Linked DNA regions of Homo sapiens: region 1 is linked to region 2. The links come from fine-mapping of genetic effects on gene expression. A gene starts in region 2. The other region holds a variant in brackets. All regions are shown on one strand. Distances are between the middles of the regions. Region 1 overlaps GMEB2 (glucocorticoid modulatory element binding protein 2). Region 2 holds the start of STMN3 (stathmin 3).

Evidence for each region.
Region 1: its variant is fine-mapped to the expression of STMN3 in blood mononuclear cells (TOPMed, PIP 0.93).

Annotation. Positions count from the first base shown.
Region 1 is chr20:63,607,558-63,615,874 of GRCh38, reverse strand. All of the region lies in intron 2 of GMEB2 (glucocorticoid modulatory element binding protein 2), which reads left to right. Among named protein-coding and RNA genes, the nearest start is that of GMEB2, 15 kb to the left of the region's middle. RefSeq lists enhancers at 1,747-1,916, 5,213-5,382. The variant G/A (reference allele first, on the strand shown) is at 3,418.
Region 2 is chr20:63,649,581-63,657,854 of GRCh38, reverse strand. It overlaps STMN3 (stathmin 3), which reads left to right and starts at 4,431. Exons shown (of 5, transcript NM_015894.4): 1 at 4,431-4,528. The coding sequence starts at 4,510. It overlaps RTEL1-TNFRSF6B (RTEL1-TNFRSF6B readthrough (NMD candidate)), which reads right to left and starts at 45. Exons shown (of 38, transcript NR_037882.1): 1 at 1-45. It also overlaps a transcript of RTEL1 not described here. RefSeq lists enhancers at 3,093-3,771, 3,772-4,451, 5,728-6,298 and silencers at 4,594-4,643, 4,664-4,753.

The DNA.
Region 1 (8,317 bases), 42 kb after region 2:
TAAACTCACGTACATGTTGAAAAGCACCCCAGGTCCTCATGTTCCGCTGGATGAACCCCCACAAAGGGAGCATGGGGCGTCGCCACACCGTGGAGCCCTGCACGTGCCCCTCGCGTTCCCAGCATGAGACCCCACTGTACACACAGCTTCCATTCTGGTTTGGCTTTAGTTAATGATCTTTGTCTTTCCATGTTGATGAATTTTCATCTCTTCTAATATTCAATTCAAATTTAAATTTCTTCCTATGTTGGCCAGGCCTGGTGGCTCCTGCCTGTAATCTGAGCACTTTGGGAGGCTGAGGTGGGAGGGTTGCTTGAGCCCAGGAGTTGAGACCAGCCCGAGCAACATAGTGAAACCTCGTCTCTACAAAAAATATAAAAATTATTTGGGTGTGGTGGCATGCACCTATGGTCCCAGCTGCATGGGAGGTTGAGGCGGGAGGATTGCTTGAGCCTGAGAGAGGTTGAGGCTGCAGTGAGCCAAGGTCATGCCACTGCACTGCAGCCTGGGTGACAGGGTGAGATCCTGTCTCAAAAAAAAGAAAAAAGGAAAAGTTTCTTTCCCCGCAAAGTGGCTTTTACTGTTGGTTTGTCCAAGTTGGAGACCATCCCATTTAGTCCTCATATTGCCCATTAGCATGTCACTCAGAAAAGTCTCTTTTTCGTGAACTGGCTCAACGAGGAGACTGGGCCAGATGTCCTGCAGGTGCCTTGCTGGGTTTGGAGGATCGCAATTCACTACAGCAGCTGAGTCGTGCCTAGGCTCCAGTCTACAAAGCCAGGGTGTAGGGACCAGCCCCACAGGGTTGGTGGGTTTTCTCCTCGTATGCGGAGATGAGAGAGTGTAGAAATAAAGACACAAGACAAAGATAAAAGAAAAAGACAGCTGGGCCTGGGGGACCACTACCACCAAGACGCGGAGACTGGTAGCGGCCCCGAATGCCAGGTTGCGCTATTTATTGGATACAAGACAAAGCGGCAGGGTAAGGAGTGTGAACCATGTCCAGTGATAGGTAAGGTCATGTGGGTCACGTGCCCACTGGCCAGGGGGCCCTTCCCTTCCTGGCAGCTGAGGCAGAGAGAGAGGAGAGAGAGAGAGAGACCGCTTACGCCATTATTTCTGCTTATCAGAGACTTTCAGTACTTTCACTAATTTGCTGCTGCTATCTAGAAGGCAGAGCCAGGTGCACAGGATGGAACATGAAGGCGGACTAGGAGCGTGACCACTGAAGCACAGCATCACAGGGAGACGGTTAGGCCTCCGGATAACTGCGGGCGGGCCTGACTGATGTCAGGCCCTCCGCAAGAGGTGGAGGAGTAGAGTCTTCTCTAAACTCCCCCGGGGAAAGGGAGACTCTCTTTCCTGGTTTGCTAAGTAGCGGGTGTTTTTCCTTGACACTGAGGCTACCGCTAGACCACGGTCCACTTGGCAACGGGCGTCTTCCCAGATGCTGGCGTTACCGCTAGACCAAGGAGCCCTCTGGTGGCCCTGTCCAGGCATAACAGAAGGCTCGCACTCTTGTCTTCTGGTCAGTTCTCACTATGTCCCCTCAGCTCCTATCTCTGTATGGCCTAGTTTTTCCTAGGTTATGATTTCCTAGTTTTTCCTAGGTTATGCTTAGGCAAGGATTATTATAATATTGGAATAAAGAGTAATTGCTACAAACTAATGATGAATGATATTCATATATAATCATATTTATGATCTATATCTAGTATAACTATTCTTATTTTATGCATTTTATTACACCGGAACAGCTCGTGCCCTCGGTCTCTTGCCTCGGCACCTAGGTGGCTTGCCGCCCATACCAGGGTCCATCTGATGGAGTGGGTGTTGCCCAGTCTGACAAATGCAGGGCGGCCTTCACATCCTAGGGGGTCTCTTTACCCTGCCCTGCTCTGCACTCTTCCCTCCCCCTCCTGTCCAGACCACCCACATGCTAGACTCTCACACCCAAGAGAAGTCTCACGAACATGTCGCAGGAGCATCAAGGACACTGGAGTTACCCATTTGAAATGTGGAGAGTTCAACATTAAGTACATTTTTATTGATAAACAAAAATGGGCCAGGCGCAGTGGCTCACACCTGTAATCCCAGCACTTTGGGAGGCCAGGGTGGGTGGATCACTTGTCAGGAATTTGAGACCAGTCTGGCCAACATGGTGAAACCCCGTCTCTACTAAAAGTACAAAAATTAGCCAGGCGTGGTGGCGGGCGCCTGTAATCCAGTTGGGAGGCTGCAGCAGGAGAATTGCTTGAACCAGGGAGATGGAGGTTACAGTGAGCCGAGATTGTGCCACTGCACTCCAGCCTGGGTGACAGAGCGAGACTCAGTCTCAAAAAAAAAAAAAAAAGAAAACAAAAATGTTGTAGTAATAAAATCCTGCACAGTTGTCTTCGTACACAGTTGTGGCTTAGAGCTCTCCTCTGTGGGTGTCTTGCCGGCTGGTGGCAGTGACGGACCAGGGCAGTGGCAGACACAGGCGCACGGCTGGCGCAGTGCCCTGGAGGCTGGTGTCCCACTTGCTGTCTTGGTTTCCTGTGGTCACTGTGGAAGGTGGCTCCTGTAGGTTAGCTTTGCTTTATGAACACTGAGTAGGAGCTTTTTTTCTAGGATGTTAAAAGAATTTGCTCACATCTTATGCTTGAGTTAACTCTTTGAAGAACAGTGAGAAGTAGAGAGGAAATAATTGCCAAGTTCTCTTGCTTGCTCTGTTTATGATTGTGTCAGTTTTCTTTTGCTGTTTAAGAAAACACCCAATGGCAGGCACCTGTAGTCCCAGTTACTCAGGAGGCTGAGGCAGGGGAATGGCGTGAATCCGGGGGGCAGAGCTTGCAGTGAGCCAAGATTGCGCCACTGCACTCCAGCCTGGGCAACAGAGTGAGACTGCGTCTCCGAAAAAAAAAAAGAAAAAGAAAGAAAGAAACCATCCAAAACTTAGTGGCTTAAGACAAGACATAGTTGTTATTATTTTTAATTCTGTTGGTTGGTTCGTGGTTCTGCTGGTCTGGGCCGGCCTCACCAACCCCTGTCGTCAGCTGACAGCTTGGCAAGGACCTGCTGGTCTGGGTGGCCTTGGCCACAGGGGTCTCTGGAGGGAGGCAGTCTGAGGCACAGGTAGGCTCGGCTGGGTGGCTCTCCTCTGCTTTGCCCGGTCTGTGATCCTCCACCTGGAGGCCTGGACTTCTTTGCCCCGTAAGCCCACAGTTGCAGAGGAAAGTGGGCCTCCTGCTCACTTCTGTTGCCTTGATTGACGCAAGCGACATCACCAAGTGCTGGTTCAAGGGCAGAGCTAAGACTGCCTCTTGGTAGGAAGTTACAAAACGTTGAGATCATTTCTGTGGCCACAGAATGACATTTCCATTCGTCCGCCTCCCGCCTTTTCCTGGGCCTTCCCAGCTCACCCCTTGTGGCCAC[G/A]TCGGGTCTGGGTGTGGCTGGGGCTTCTTGGTTATGGCACGTCTTGATCCAGAGACTGGTGAACTAAAACCTAGCGACTTCCCCTCCCCTACTGAGCGTGCGGTGGCAGACAAGACAGGACGGGCTCCAGGGCAGGTGGCTTGTTCGAAGGCACCTCACTGATCCAAGATGGGGCAGGGTGGCCCTTTGGCCAGATGCGGCCAGAAAGCTTTCTAAGGTGTGAGGGAAGAGTGACAACCATAGCCCAGGTTGGTCTTTATTCTGAGACCATCTCTTTTTTAAATTTTCTATTTTTTATATTTTTTCCTTTCTTAGATTTCTGTGGGTCAGAACCATTTTTTACCTTGACAGAGTCTTTTGCCAGTGGAGAAACTGGAGACATGAAATGATTTTTTGTTTTTCGAAACAGAGTCTCGTTCTGTTGCACAGACTGGAGTGCAGTGGCACAGTCACGGCTCATGGCAGCCGTGACCTCCTGGGTTCAAGGAATCGTCCTGCCTCAGCCTCCTGAGTAGCTGGGACTCTACAGGCATGTGCCACCATGCCCGGCCCCGTGTAGATTTTTAGTACAGTGCTGGGACTGCAGGCATGTGCCACCACGCCTGGCTAATGGGCTCTCACTGTGTTGCCCAAGCTAGTCTTGAACTCCTGGACTCAAGCAGTCCTCCCACCTCAGCCTCCCGAAGCACTGGGGTTACAGGCTTGAGCCACCATGTCTGGCCGATGCAAAACAATTTGATCCCCTGGGGATTCCTTGTTTGGAGAAGAACCTTCTAGCTCCACTGTGTCTGGAATGTTCCTTGCGAGATCACACTAGTCAGATGTGTTTCCTTTTTTTTTTTTGAGACCAAGTCTCACTCCGTCACACAGGCTGGAGTGCAGTGGCATGATCTCAGCTCACTGCAGCAGCCTCCACCTCCCGGGTTCAAGTAAATCTCTTGCCTCAGCCTCCTGAATAGCAGGGATTACAGGCACCCGCCACCACGCCTGCCTAAATTTTGTATTTTTCGTAGAGACAGGGTTTCACCATATTGGCCAGGCTGGTCTTGAACTCCTGACCTCAAGTGATCCACCACCTTGGCCTCCCAAAGTGCTGGGATTATAGGCATGAGCCACCACGCCCAGCCTGTTTCTTCTCTTTTAAATTGCTGTGGCATAAGGTCCTGCCAAGGTTTCCTCTGCCTCATGGCACAGTGGCCCCTTCCACACACAAGAGCCGGGTCTGGGATGGCATTTGTGCCCTTAGCCTGTGCCCTCTCCCCACGCAGAGGCGGTGCTGTGTGTCCCAGGCTGGGGACAGCAGTGCTTGTTTCTGGCAGTTTCTGAATTAGCCATGCTTGCAGCCTAACAAACCACCGCAGAGCTTGGTGGCTTAAAGCAGCAGACACTGGTCATTTCTTAAGGTTTTCGGGCCTGGGCTGGTGCTGCTGGGCCTCGCCGGGGGGTCCAGGCTGGGCTCACTTGCATATCCGGGCATTGGTGGGCTGGCCGAGGCTCTGCATGTGGTCCTCATCTGCCAGGACACCTGCCTGGGTGTGCTTAGCAGGAGGAGAGCCAGAGTCCTCGTAGGGCCTCGTCACAGCCTCTTGGTCAAAGCTCTTCAAAGCTTGGCCCAAAGTCAAGTGGAGGGGGTGGGAAATAGCCCCCTGTCTTGATGGAGGGAGCCATGAAGGACCAGAGGGCATTTTTCAGTCTGCAGTTGCTTTGCCAGGACGCCAAGGCTCTGCCCTCGCGGGACAGTGGCTTATGGAGCAGTGGAGAGTCTGCATGCGCCTTCTTCTCTGAGAAGAGAACCCCACGTGGCAGCTGAGGCAGGGCTGTCTTGAAGGACTTAAAGATCCTCTTCTTTTTTGTGGGGAATTAAATCTGTTCTTCTACCATCTGGAAATTGAGACTTCCTCTTGCTACATGTTTTTTTTGTTTTGTTTTCTTTTTTTGAGACAGATTCTCACTCTGTCGCCCAGACTGGAGTGCAATGGCGCGATCTCGGCTCACTGTAACCTCCACCTCCCGGGTTCACGCCATTCTCTTGCCTCAGCCTCCTGAGTAGCTGGGCCTACAGGCGCCCGCCACCACGCCCGGCTAATTTTTTGTATTTTTAGTAGAGACGGGGTTTCACCGTGTTAGCCAGGATGGTCTCGATCTCCTGACCTTGTGATCCGCCTGCCTCGGCCTCCCAAAGTGCTGGGATTACAGGTGTGAGCCACCGTGCCCGGCTGGTGTGCGTGTGTTTTTAAGCAAACTTCTGGAAGTTTAGAAGTGCACACATCATACAGTTGGCTGTTATGAGGTGCACAGCTGGGAACCCCACCCAGACCTCTCCCAGCTTCTCCACATCATCTCCCCAGAGGCAGCTGCCCGCACGGGTTCCAGAAACTGGAGACTTGTTCCCTGTTTCAGACAACCCTCATGCCAGTGTGGGAACACCATGTCTGCAGGATTAATTTCTAGAAATGGAGGTGGAGTCAGAGGGGCATGTTTCTAGAAATGGAGGTGGGGTCAGAGGGGCATGTTTCTAGAAATGGAGGTGGGGTCAGAGGGGCATGTTTCTAGAAATGGATGTGTGGGTCAGAGGGGCATGTTTCTAGAAATGGAGGTGAGGTCAGAGGGGCATGTTTCTAGAAATGGAGGTGTGGGTCAGAGGGGCATGTTTCTAGAAATGGAGGTGGGGTCAGAGGGGCATGTTTCTAGAAATGGAGGTGGGGTCAGAGGGACATGTTTCTAGAAATGGAGGTGTGGGTCAGAGGGGCATGTTTCTAGAAATGGAGGTGGGTCAGAGGGGCATGTTTCTAGAAATGGAGGTGGGTCAGAGGGGCATGTTTCTAGAAATGGATGTGGGGTGAGAGGGGCATGTTTCTAGAAATGGAGGTGGGTCAGAGGGGCATGTTTCTAGAAATGGAGGTGAGGTCAGAGGGGCATGTTTCTAGAAATGGAGGTGGGGTCAGAGGGGCATGTTTCTAGAAATGGATGTGGGGTCAGAGGGACATGTTTCTAGAAATGGATGTGGGGTGAGAGGGGCATGTTTCTAGAAATGGAGGTGGGGTCAGAGGGGCATGTTTCTAGAAATGGAGGTGAGGTCAGAGGGGCATGTTTCTAGAAATGGATGTGTGGGGTCAGAGTGGCATGTTTCTAGAAATGGAGGTGAGTCAGAGGGACATGTTTCTAGAAATGGATGTGTGGGGTCAGAGGGGCATGTTTCTGGAAATGGAGGTGGGTCAGAGGGGCATGTTTCTAGAAATGGATGTGTGGGGTCAGAGTGGCATGTTTCTAGAAATGGAGGTGAGTCAGAGGGACATGTTTCTAGAAATGGATGTGTGGGGTCAGAGGGGCATGTTTCTGGAAATGGAGGTGGGTCAGAGGGGCATGTTTCTAGAAATGGAGGTGTGGGGTCAGGGGCATGTTTCTAGAAATGGAGGTGTGGGTCAGAGGGACATGTTTCTAGAAATGGAGGTGTGGGTCAGAGGGGCATGTTTCTAGAAATGGAGGTGAGTCAGAGGGGCATGTTTCTAGAAATGGAGGTGGGGTCACAGGGGCATGTTTCTAGAAATGGAGGTGAGGTCAGAGGGGCATGTTTCTAGAAATGGATGTGGGGTCAGAGGGGCATGTTTCTAGAAATGGAGGTGTGGGTCAGAGGGGCATGTTTCTAGAAATGGAGGTGGGGTCAGAGGGGCATGTTTCTAGAAATGGATGTGGGGTCAGAGGGACATGTTTCTAGAAATGGAGGTGGGGTCAGAGGGGCATGTTTCTAGAAATGGATGTGGGGTCAGAGGGACATGTTTCTAGAAATGGAGGTGGGGTCACAGGGGCATGTTTCTAGAAATGGAGGTGAGGTCAGAGGGGCATGTTTCTAGAAATGGATGTGGGGTCAGAGGGACATGTTTCTAGAAATGGAGGTGGGGTCAGAGGGGCATGTTTCTAGAAATGGATGTGGGGTCAGAGGGACATGTTTCTAGAAATGGAGGTGGGGTCAGAGGGGCATGTTTCTAGAAATGGATGTGGGGTCAGAGGGACATGTTTCTAGAAATGGATGTGGGGTCACGGGCATGTTTCTAGAAATGGAGGTGAGGTCAGAGGGGCATGTTTCTAGAAATGGATGTGGGGTCAGAGGGGCATGTTTCTAGAAATGGATGTGGGGTCAGAGGGGCATGTTTCTAGAAATGGAGGTGAGGTCACAGGGGCATGTTTCTAGAAATGGAGGTGTGGGTCAGAGGGGCATGTTTCTAGAAATGGAGGTGAGGTCAGAGGGGCATGTTTCTAGAAATGGAGGTGAGGTCACAGGGGCATGTTTCTAGAAATGGATGTGGGGTCAGAGGGGCATGTTTCTAGAAATGGATGTGGGGTCACGGGCATGTTTCTAGAAATGGAGGTGAGGTCAGAGGGGCATGTTTCTAGAAATGGATGTGGGGTCAGAGGGGCATGTTTCTAGAAATGGATGTGGGGTCAGAGGGGCATGTTTCTAGAAATGGAGGTGAGGTCACAGGGGCATGTTTCTAGAAATGGAGGTGTGGGTCAGAGGGGCATGTTTCTAGAAATGGAGGTGAGGTCAGAGGGGCATGTTTCTAGAAATGGAGGTGAGGTCACAGGGGCATGTTTCTAGAAATGGAGGTGGGGTCAGAGGGGCATGTTTCTAGAAATGGAGGTGTGGGTCAGAGGGGCATGTTTCTAGAAATGGATGTGGGGTCAGAGGGGCATGTTTCTAGAAATGGATGTGGGGTCAGAGGGGCATGTTTCTAGAAATGGAGGTGGGGTCACAGGGGCATGTTTCTAGAAATGGAGGTGTGGGTCAGAGGGGCATGTTTCTAGAAATGGATGTGGGGTCAGAGGGGCATGTTTCTAGAAATGGATGTGTGGGTCAGAGGGGCATGTTTCTAGAAATGGAGGTGGGGTCAGAGGGGCATGT
Region 2 (8,274 bases):
CCCTGAGTCCCCAGCACCCGGCACTGGCTGGCAGCAGGGCTGACTCCAAGAGCGAGGCCCGCACCGTTCTGTGGGGTCAGCCCAGCGTCACGGATGTTTGTCTCAGGCGGCCCCAGCTCCCATGCCCCAGAAGGCCCCAGAAGGCCCCAGGAGGGAGTTGGCGCTGCGTGACCGCGCACGGCCGGCAGGCAGCACTTCTTCGTGGCTTCTTCATGGCTGTGTTTAATGTCCACTGACGGCACATGCGAATGCCATGCGTGCCCACGCTCCTGGGTGTGAGATAGTGCTCGGAGAAGCCCCAGCACTCACTGGCACCCAGCCCCATGTGCCTGTTGTGGTGAAGGAACTGCAGGCTGCCTATCTGAGACTCGGCAGGGAGTTGAAGATGAGGAGACCAGCCACACACACTCGTTGAATGAATGGGCACCAAGCACAAGTTTCAGTGCCCCCCATACATGCTGATATGGTTCGGCTCTGTGTCTCCACCCAAGTCTCACCTCGAATTGTAATCCCCACGTGTGGAGGGAGGGACCTGGAGGGAGGTGGTTGGATCATGCGGTCAGTTTCCTCCAGGCTGTTCTGACAGTGAGTGCTCAGGAGACCCGATGGTTTAAAAGTGGCAGTTTCCCCTTCTCTCTCTCTTTCTCCTGCCGCCATGTACGACCTGGGAACTGGGACTAACATAGACTTCACCTTCTGCCATGATTCTTTTTTCTTTGAGACAGAGTTTTGGCTTTTTGCCCAGGCTGGAGTGCAGTGGCACAATCTTGGCTCACTGCAACCTCCACCTCCTGGGTTCAAGTGATTCTCCTGCCTCAGCCTCTCAAGTAGCTGGGATTACAGGTGTGCACCACTAAGCCCGGCTAATTTTTTATATTTTTAGTAGAGATGGAGTTTGACCGTGTTGGCCAGGCAGGTCTTGAACTCCTGACCTCAGGTGATCCACCCGCCTCGGCCTCCCAAAGTGCTGGGATTACAGGCGTGAGCCACCGCGCCCAGCCAGATAAGTCCTCTCATTGTCCACACTTTCTGGGTGAGAAAGTGAGGCACAGAGCGTTGAGCAGATTGCCCAGAGCCTGCTCAGGAGCCAGGAGTTTACCTTTTGCAGCCACACATCTCATCTCCTGAGAGCAGTGGCCAGAAAAGGCTGTCCTGTGGACTGAGCTGAAGTCTGAGTCATCTGCTCCTTGCCAGCTGCTATAGGAGCGTGCTGGCCTGGGGTGGTCAGGAACTCCTGTACCCCTGCCCTCTTCCTCTAATTGCTGACGTACCCACAGCTCCAGCATACAGCAGGTGCTTGACAGATGTCTGTTGAATGACTGAGTGTCCTGCTGAGATATAGGGCTCCTTCTAGGAGCCAGAGTTAATTTCTTTCTTTCTTTTTTTTTTTTGAGACAGAGTCTTGCTCTGTCGCCCAGGCTGGAATAGAGTGGTGCGATCTCGGCTCCCTGCAACCTCCACCTCCTGGGTTCAAGCGATTCTCCTGCCTCAGCCTCCTGAGTAGCTGGGATTACAGGTGCATGCCACCACGCCCGGCTAATTTTTGTATTTTTAGTAGAGATGGGGTTTCATCATGTTGGTCAGGCTGGTCTTGAACTCCTGACCTCGTGATCTGCCCACCTCAGCCTCCCAAAGTGTTAAGATTACAGGTGTGGGCCACCACGCCCAGCCAAGCCAGAGTTAATTTCAAGAATGCAGAGGTCTGATAAAAGTCACACTTTATGAAAAACATTTTTTTTTTTGAGGTGGAGTCTTGATATTGTTGCCCAGGCTGGAGTGCAGTGGTGGGATCTCGGCTCACTGCAACCTCTGCCTCCTGGATTCAAGTGATTCTCCTGCTTCAGCCTCCAAAGTAGCTGAGATTACAGGCACCTGCCACCACACCTGGCTAATTTTTGTATTTTTAGGGTAGATGGGGTTTCACCATGTTGGCCAGGCTGGTCTCAAACTCCTGACCTCAGGTGATCTGCCCACCTCGGCCCCCCAAAGTGTTGGGATTACAGTTGTGAGCCACTGCACCCAGTCAAAACATTTTTTTAACTAGCACTAATGTGCATGTGAAAAACATCTTTGAAATGCTCGTGCACTTTCTGCATTTGATCTTGGTGAGAAGTCAAAATCTGCTCCAAGACCTGGCACTATATTGGGGCAAACAGTCAGTACAGCTATTGTGTGCCTGCCAGCATGCTGTCATTACTCCTATTGCGTGTGCCTGCCAGTGCACTGAGAGTCAGTACACCTATGGCATGTGCCTGCTAGTGTGCTGTCAGTACAGCTGTTGTGTATGCCTGCTAGCACGCTGACAGTCAGTATGGCTGACAGTCAGTACCCCATTGCGTGTGCCTGCCTAGGTGCTGACAGTCAGTACCCCTGTTGTGTGTTCCTGCTAGTGCACACTGTGCACATCTACTGTGTTCCTGGCACTATGCCACGGGCTTCCACACACCTGGTCCCTGTGCTCCAGATGAGGACACAGAGGCTCAGAGAGGGCCTGGCCAGAGTCACAATGAGTGTGAGGCATTGCGGTGCTCTGAGCCTGACTGGGTGGGTCCTACCCCACCCACATGAGAAGACTCTGGAGGTCCCAGAGAGGGCTACTTCTCTTGATCCCTAGCACCTGAGCTCCAGCACCCGGGGCTGGAGTCTGCCTGAAGGATGCTGACCATCCCCAACTGCTACTGTGGTGGCCAACAGGGAGGACACAGCTGCTGTGGTGGGCAGCTCTGTGTGCCTCTCTGCCCTTCTTCCTCCTTCGCAGAGCTGGCTTCCTAGGAATGGCCCAGGGGCCAACACCTCTGTGTGTATATTAGTTTGATATGGCTTCATAGCAAATCACCACAAAACCAACAGCTTAAAACAACTCTCATTCATTACCTCCTAATTCTTAGTAACCCAAGGCTGAAACCAAGTGGGCAGTTGGGCTCAGTTCTTGTGTGGAGGCCCTGGGGTCAAACCTGCCTCCAAGCCCATTCTCTTCTTGTTGGCAGAACTCACTTCCTTGCAGTTAAGGTCTTGTTGTCTTGCTGGCTGTTGGCTGGGAGCAGTTCTCAGATCCTTGCCACGTGGCCCCCTCATCTCAACAACAGAAAACCTTCTTTGGTTTGATCCCTCCGATTTCTTCAACCAGGCAAAGGAAACTGCTTTTAAAGGGCTCCTGTGATGAGGTCAGGGCCCGCCTGGTGATCCTCCAGTCTTAAGGGTACCTCTGGGCCACACAATGTCACATTCCTGGGCATCACCCCCACCAGACTCACAGTCCCGGGGATGATGCCGGCTTGCACGTCAGGGGTCAGGACTCTCCAGGCCACCCTAGGATGTGACTGGCCTTGGGTGCTCCCACCGCACTGCTAGAGCTGAGGCTTGCCCCTGGCTTTTGTGTTGCTGAGCCAGCCTCATGGCTCTGCAAGTCTCCTGAGGTTTTCAGGGTTTTGCTCCTGGCCCTATGACTTAGTTGCTTGTAGGGCAAAGCACTTTTCTCCCTGCCTCGGTGGCTTCATCCCTGCAATGGCAAAGACGCTCCGTTTGCCTACCAGGCTTTCCCTTTGGGAGTTATGAGGAGAGGGGGAGGCAGGATAGGTTGCCCCCCACTCACTAAGTGCGCACAACCCTGGCACCCCTCCTCTCCATCGTCTGGGGGCATCATTGTTTCATCTTACCCCTGAGAAACAAAGGCCCAGCGAGGTCAGACGCTTGCCCTTGGCCTGGGCCACACAGTGAGTGAAGGTCTGAGCCCAGGCGGGAAACCACCTCTTTCACGGCAAAGCCTTTGTTCTGGCCTCACTCCTCCACTTTCACTCTTCTCCGCTCAGATCCTGCCCATCCCCTGGGCTCACAGGAGATGCCCCTTGGAGGCCTCCAGGCCAGCGCCCACCCCTGTGGCTGTGGCATCCTCTCCGATGGCAGGCACAGACCTGGACCCTGTTGGCGCCAGCCCAGCCTACAGCGGCCTTGGCGGCGAAGAGCTCTGCGGCCCCACCCCATGGGTGGGACCTGCTCCTCCGGCATTGCCCCTGCCCCGCCTGCCCTGGGGAATGGGGGCTCATCTCCACCCCCACCCCACTCTCAGGCCTCACAAAGCCAAGTTGGAGAAGCAGCTGTCCCGCTGTGAGCGGTTGGAGGGTGGGGGGTCTTGTTGCAGTTCGGGTAGCCCCCCTCCTCCGCCCTCTCCCCCTGAGAGCCGCGGCCCCTTCCGCAGCCAGGCGCTTGCTCCTCTCTCTCTTCCTCCCTCCCTTCCTCCCTCCCTCCTTCCCCCGCCCCCGCAGTCTCTCTCTCTCTCTCTCTCCTTCCCCCAACCCTCCCTCCCTCCTCCCCCCGCTCCTTCCCCCAACCCTCTCTCTCTCTCCCTCTGTCTCCCTCCCTCTCTCTCTCCCGCCGCGCCCGCCTCCCGCCCGCCCTCGCTCCCTCCACTCCTCTCCCCTCCCCTCCCCGGCACTGCAGCACCAGCCGTCTGCAGCTCCGGCCGCCACTTGCGCCTCTCCAGCCTCCGCAGGCCCAACCGCCGCCAGCACCATGGCCAGCACCATTTCCGGTAGGCTCCGGGGCCACGGGCTTTGTGGGGCGGCGGGATCTGAGCAGAGGCCTCGTCTGGCCTCGCCTGGGGCAGCGGCCGGCAGCGGACGCCAATTTCCCTTCTCCTACCCTGCGCGTTGCAAGCCTGGGCCCGACCCGCCCGAGGCTGGGGTCTGCGGCGCCGGCGGGGCTGGTGGGGCGCTGGGCTGCGAGGCGCCGCGCCGGGGAGCGCTCGGGACCGGGACGTCGGGCGGGGGCGCCTCGCCCCTGGGGGAGCAGCGTGCCACGCAGGGCGCGACTGCCGCAGGGTGGCTCCCAGACCCGGGCGTGGGCTCGCGACCGGGTGGGCGCGCTCGCGATGTGCGGGCGGGGTCCCTGGGGCGTCCGGCGACCCGAGATCTGGGTCCGCCAGAGCCTTCGTGGGGAGGCGGGGAGAGGGTGGGACCCTCTGCCAAAGCCCCAGCCGGGAACCCGGCGCTCCCCGCGCCAGTGCAGCACAGGGGCTGGAGGGGGCGCTGAAGGAGGGGGGCGGGCCAGACACGGCGGAGCCCGGAGTGAGGGGGACCGCGCCCTCCCCCCACACCGCTGCGGCCTCGGGGACCACCCTTTGCGACGCCCGCGCCACCTGCTCTGGCCAGAAAAGCCACTGCCCTTTGCGCCGCGGGGTCTGGATGGGGGAGGGGCGACTGCGATCCCCAAACCCTCCGGAGACCAGAGGGCTCCGCCCCTCCCGCCCCTCCACCTCCCGCGGGGCGGACCCACCGCCTTCGAAGGTAGCGCCCACCCCGGCCTCCCGGCCCGTCCCGCGCGGAGCTCAGGCGGAGGGGCGGGCGCAGGCCCGGGCGGGGGGCGGATTCTGGACGCAGGGGAGCTGCCGGGCGACCTCGGGCGCGAGGACGCTGGGCCCGCCCTTCCCGAAACGCTCTGCTCCGCCGCGAGGCCGCAGAACCCGCTTCGTTTTTCACTCGACGTTTGGGAGGACAGGACGAAGGGCCGCACCTCCTTCCCATCGCCGCCCCCGTTCACGAGCCGCACTCCCTCCCACCTTTTCTTACGCCCCCGGGACAGGTCGCCGCGGTCCCTCTCCCGAGCTGACTGGTTCAACTCGGGCGCCTTGGCCCGGGGCGCAGAACTCCGCCCACCCACGCGTGCCCGACCTGACCCCGCCCCTCAGGCCCCACGGGCTTGGAGGCTCCAGGTGACTTCAGCACCTGCCAGGAGGGGACCGTGTGTGTCACCGGCCACACCTCCCCACCCTATCTGGGAGTCCTGTCCATCTGCGCTTCCTCCCTCCGCCTCCTCCTGGACACCCCCGGGGATACTGGGGGTGGGGGGGCTCTCAGCGGAGGGGACTCCCCTCCTGCCCCTGAGGGCAGCGCCGTCCTCTCCAGGGCCGCCTCCTGCCCTTCCTGACAGCCTTTCCCTGACGGTCCCTCCCCATGGGCTCGGTTCCTGGGGCTGAGCTGGGAGGGCGAGGGCATCTCGGCATCTGGGCACTGGCTCCTCGCTCTTTTGTGGCCTCTGCTCACATTCTCCTTCTGCAACCCAGAGTCTGACCTCCTCCAGCTGTGTGGTGTTGTCCGAGCTGCCTAACCTCTCAGGACCTGGGTCTCCTTATCTGGGTAGAGATGACGGTGCTGGCACCTCTCCTGGGGCTTGTTCTGAGGCCTCAATATTTCAGGAAAGGTGCTTGGCCGCTTGCCTGCTAAGAGATGAGTGCTCACCGCACGTCAAGCAGCCTGACTGTGGTAGCCACATTTCTGAGTTTCCTGCCCAGGGAAAGGCAAATCGGCTGGTGGCTCCTGCCATGCTGTGCTCCTGGCACCATGAGAAGCAGCCTGGGTGACAGTGACCTCCATCTGCCCCCGGGGGGAGCCGGCAGCAGCCTCCAGGGCCCTCCAGGGGTCAGAGGCCACTGTGGTCCCCTGGCCTCTCAGTTCTGGACAGATCCCCCACCTCCGCGAGCTCCCAACAGGAGCCTGCAGTCAGGCCCAGGCTCATGACTGGGCTCTCACCCGGCACTCTGTGTGATGCTGGGTGGAATGCTTGCCCTCTCTGAGCCTTCATTCCTCCTCTGTAGAAGTGAGGCAGATAGGGTGGCTCATGCCTGTAATCCCAGCACTTTGAGAGGCTGAGGCCGGTGGATAAACTGAGGTCAAGAGTTCGAGACTAGCCTGGCCAACATGGTGAAATCCCCCCTCTCTGCTAAAAGTACAAAATTAGCCAGGTGTGGTGACACACTCCTGTGATCCCAGCAATCTGGGAGACTGAGGCAGGATAATTGCTTGACCCGGGGAGAGGGAGGTTGCAGTGAGCTGAGATTGTGCCATTGCACTCCAGCCTGGGCAGCAAGAGTAGAAACTCTTTCTAAAAAAAAAAAAAAAGAAGAAAGAAGAGGAGGAAGACGAAGAAGACGAAAGAGAAGGAGAAGGAGAGCTGATAAGGGCATCCACCCGGGTGGGCGGGAGGGGTGGGTGTGAGGTGTGACCCTGGGAGTGGGCACCATCCACCTGGGCGGCGGGAGGGGTGGGCGTGAGGTGTGACCCTGGGAGTGGGCACCATCCACCTGGACGGCGGGAGGGGTGGGCGTGAGGTGTGACCCTGGGAGCGGGCACCATCCACCCGGGCGGGCGGGAGGGGTGGGCGTGAGGTGTGACCCTGGGAGCGGGCACCATCCACCCGGGTGGGCGTCAGGTGTGACCCTGGGAGCGGGCACCATCCACCCGGGTGGGTGGGAGGGGCGGGCGTGAGGTGTGACCCTGGGAGTGGGCACCATCCACCTGGGCGACGGGAGGGGTGGGCGTGAGGTGTGACCCTGGGAGTGGGCACCATCCACCTGGACGGCGGGAGGGGTGGGCGTGAGGTGTGACCCTGGGAGTGGGCACCATCCACCTGGACGGCGGGAGGGGTGGGCGTGAGGTGTGACCCTGGGAGCGGGCACTACTATACCCTGCTGCTTGAGGCCAACCTGGTGCCTTTTTCTGACTCCTGCTCATGAATCATCCAAAGGCCAATCCGCATTTCCTCGGTATCTAATGTTTAGTACAAAGAGAAGCAGGGAGACAAAACAAGCCCAGCTCACTGCGAGAATTGTTTTTAACTCCCTGAAGTCAGTGAAGGGGAAGGATGGTGGGGAGGGGGCGGTGAGAAAGAAGGGAGTCAAAGAGAGGGAGGGGCCGGGCGCGGGGGCTCACGCCTGTAATCCCAGCACTGCGGGGGGCCAGGCGCGGGGGCTCACGCCTGTCATCCCAGCACTTTGGGAGGCTGAGGTGGGCAGATCACCGGAGGTCAGGAGTTCAAGACCAGCCTGGCCAACATGGTGAAACCTCATCTCTACTAAAAATACAGAAAATTAGCTGGGCATGGTGGCATGTGCCTGTAATTCTAGCTACTTGGGAGGCTGAGGCAGGAGAATCACTTGAACTGGGGAGGCAGAGGTTGCAGTGAGCCGACATCGCGCCACTGCACTCCAGCCTGGGTGACAGAGTGAGACCCCGTCTTAAAAAAAAAAAAAAAGTCCAGGCGCGGTGGCTCACACCTGTAATCCCAGCACTTTGGGAGGCTGAGACGGGCGGATCACAAGGTCAGGAGATCGAGACCATCCTGGCTAACACAGTGAAACCCCGTCTCTACTAAAAATACAAAAAATTAGCTGGGCGTGGTGGCGGGCGCCTGTAGTCCCAGCTATTCGGGAGGCTGAGGCAGGAGAATGGCGTGAATCCGGGAGGCGGAGCTTGCCGTGAGCCGAGATTGTACCACTGCACT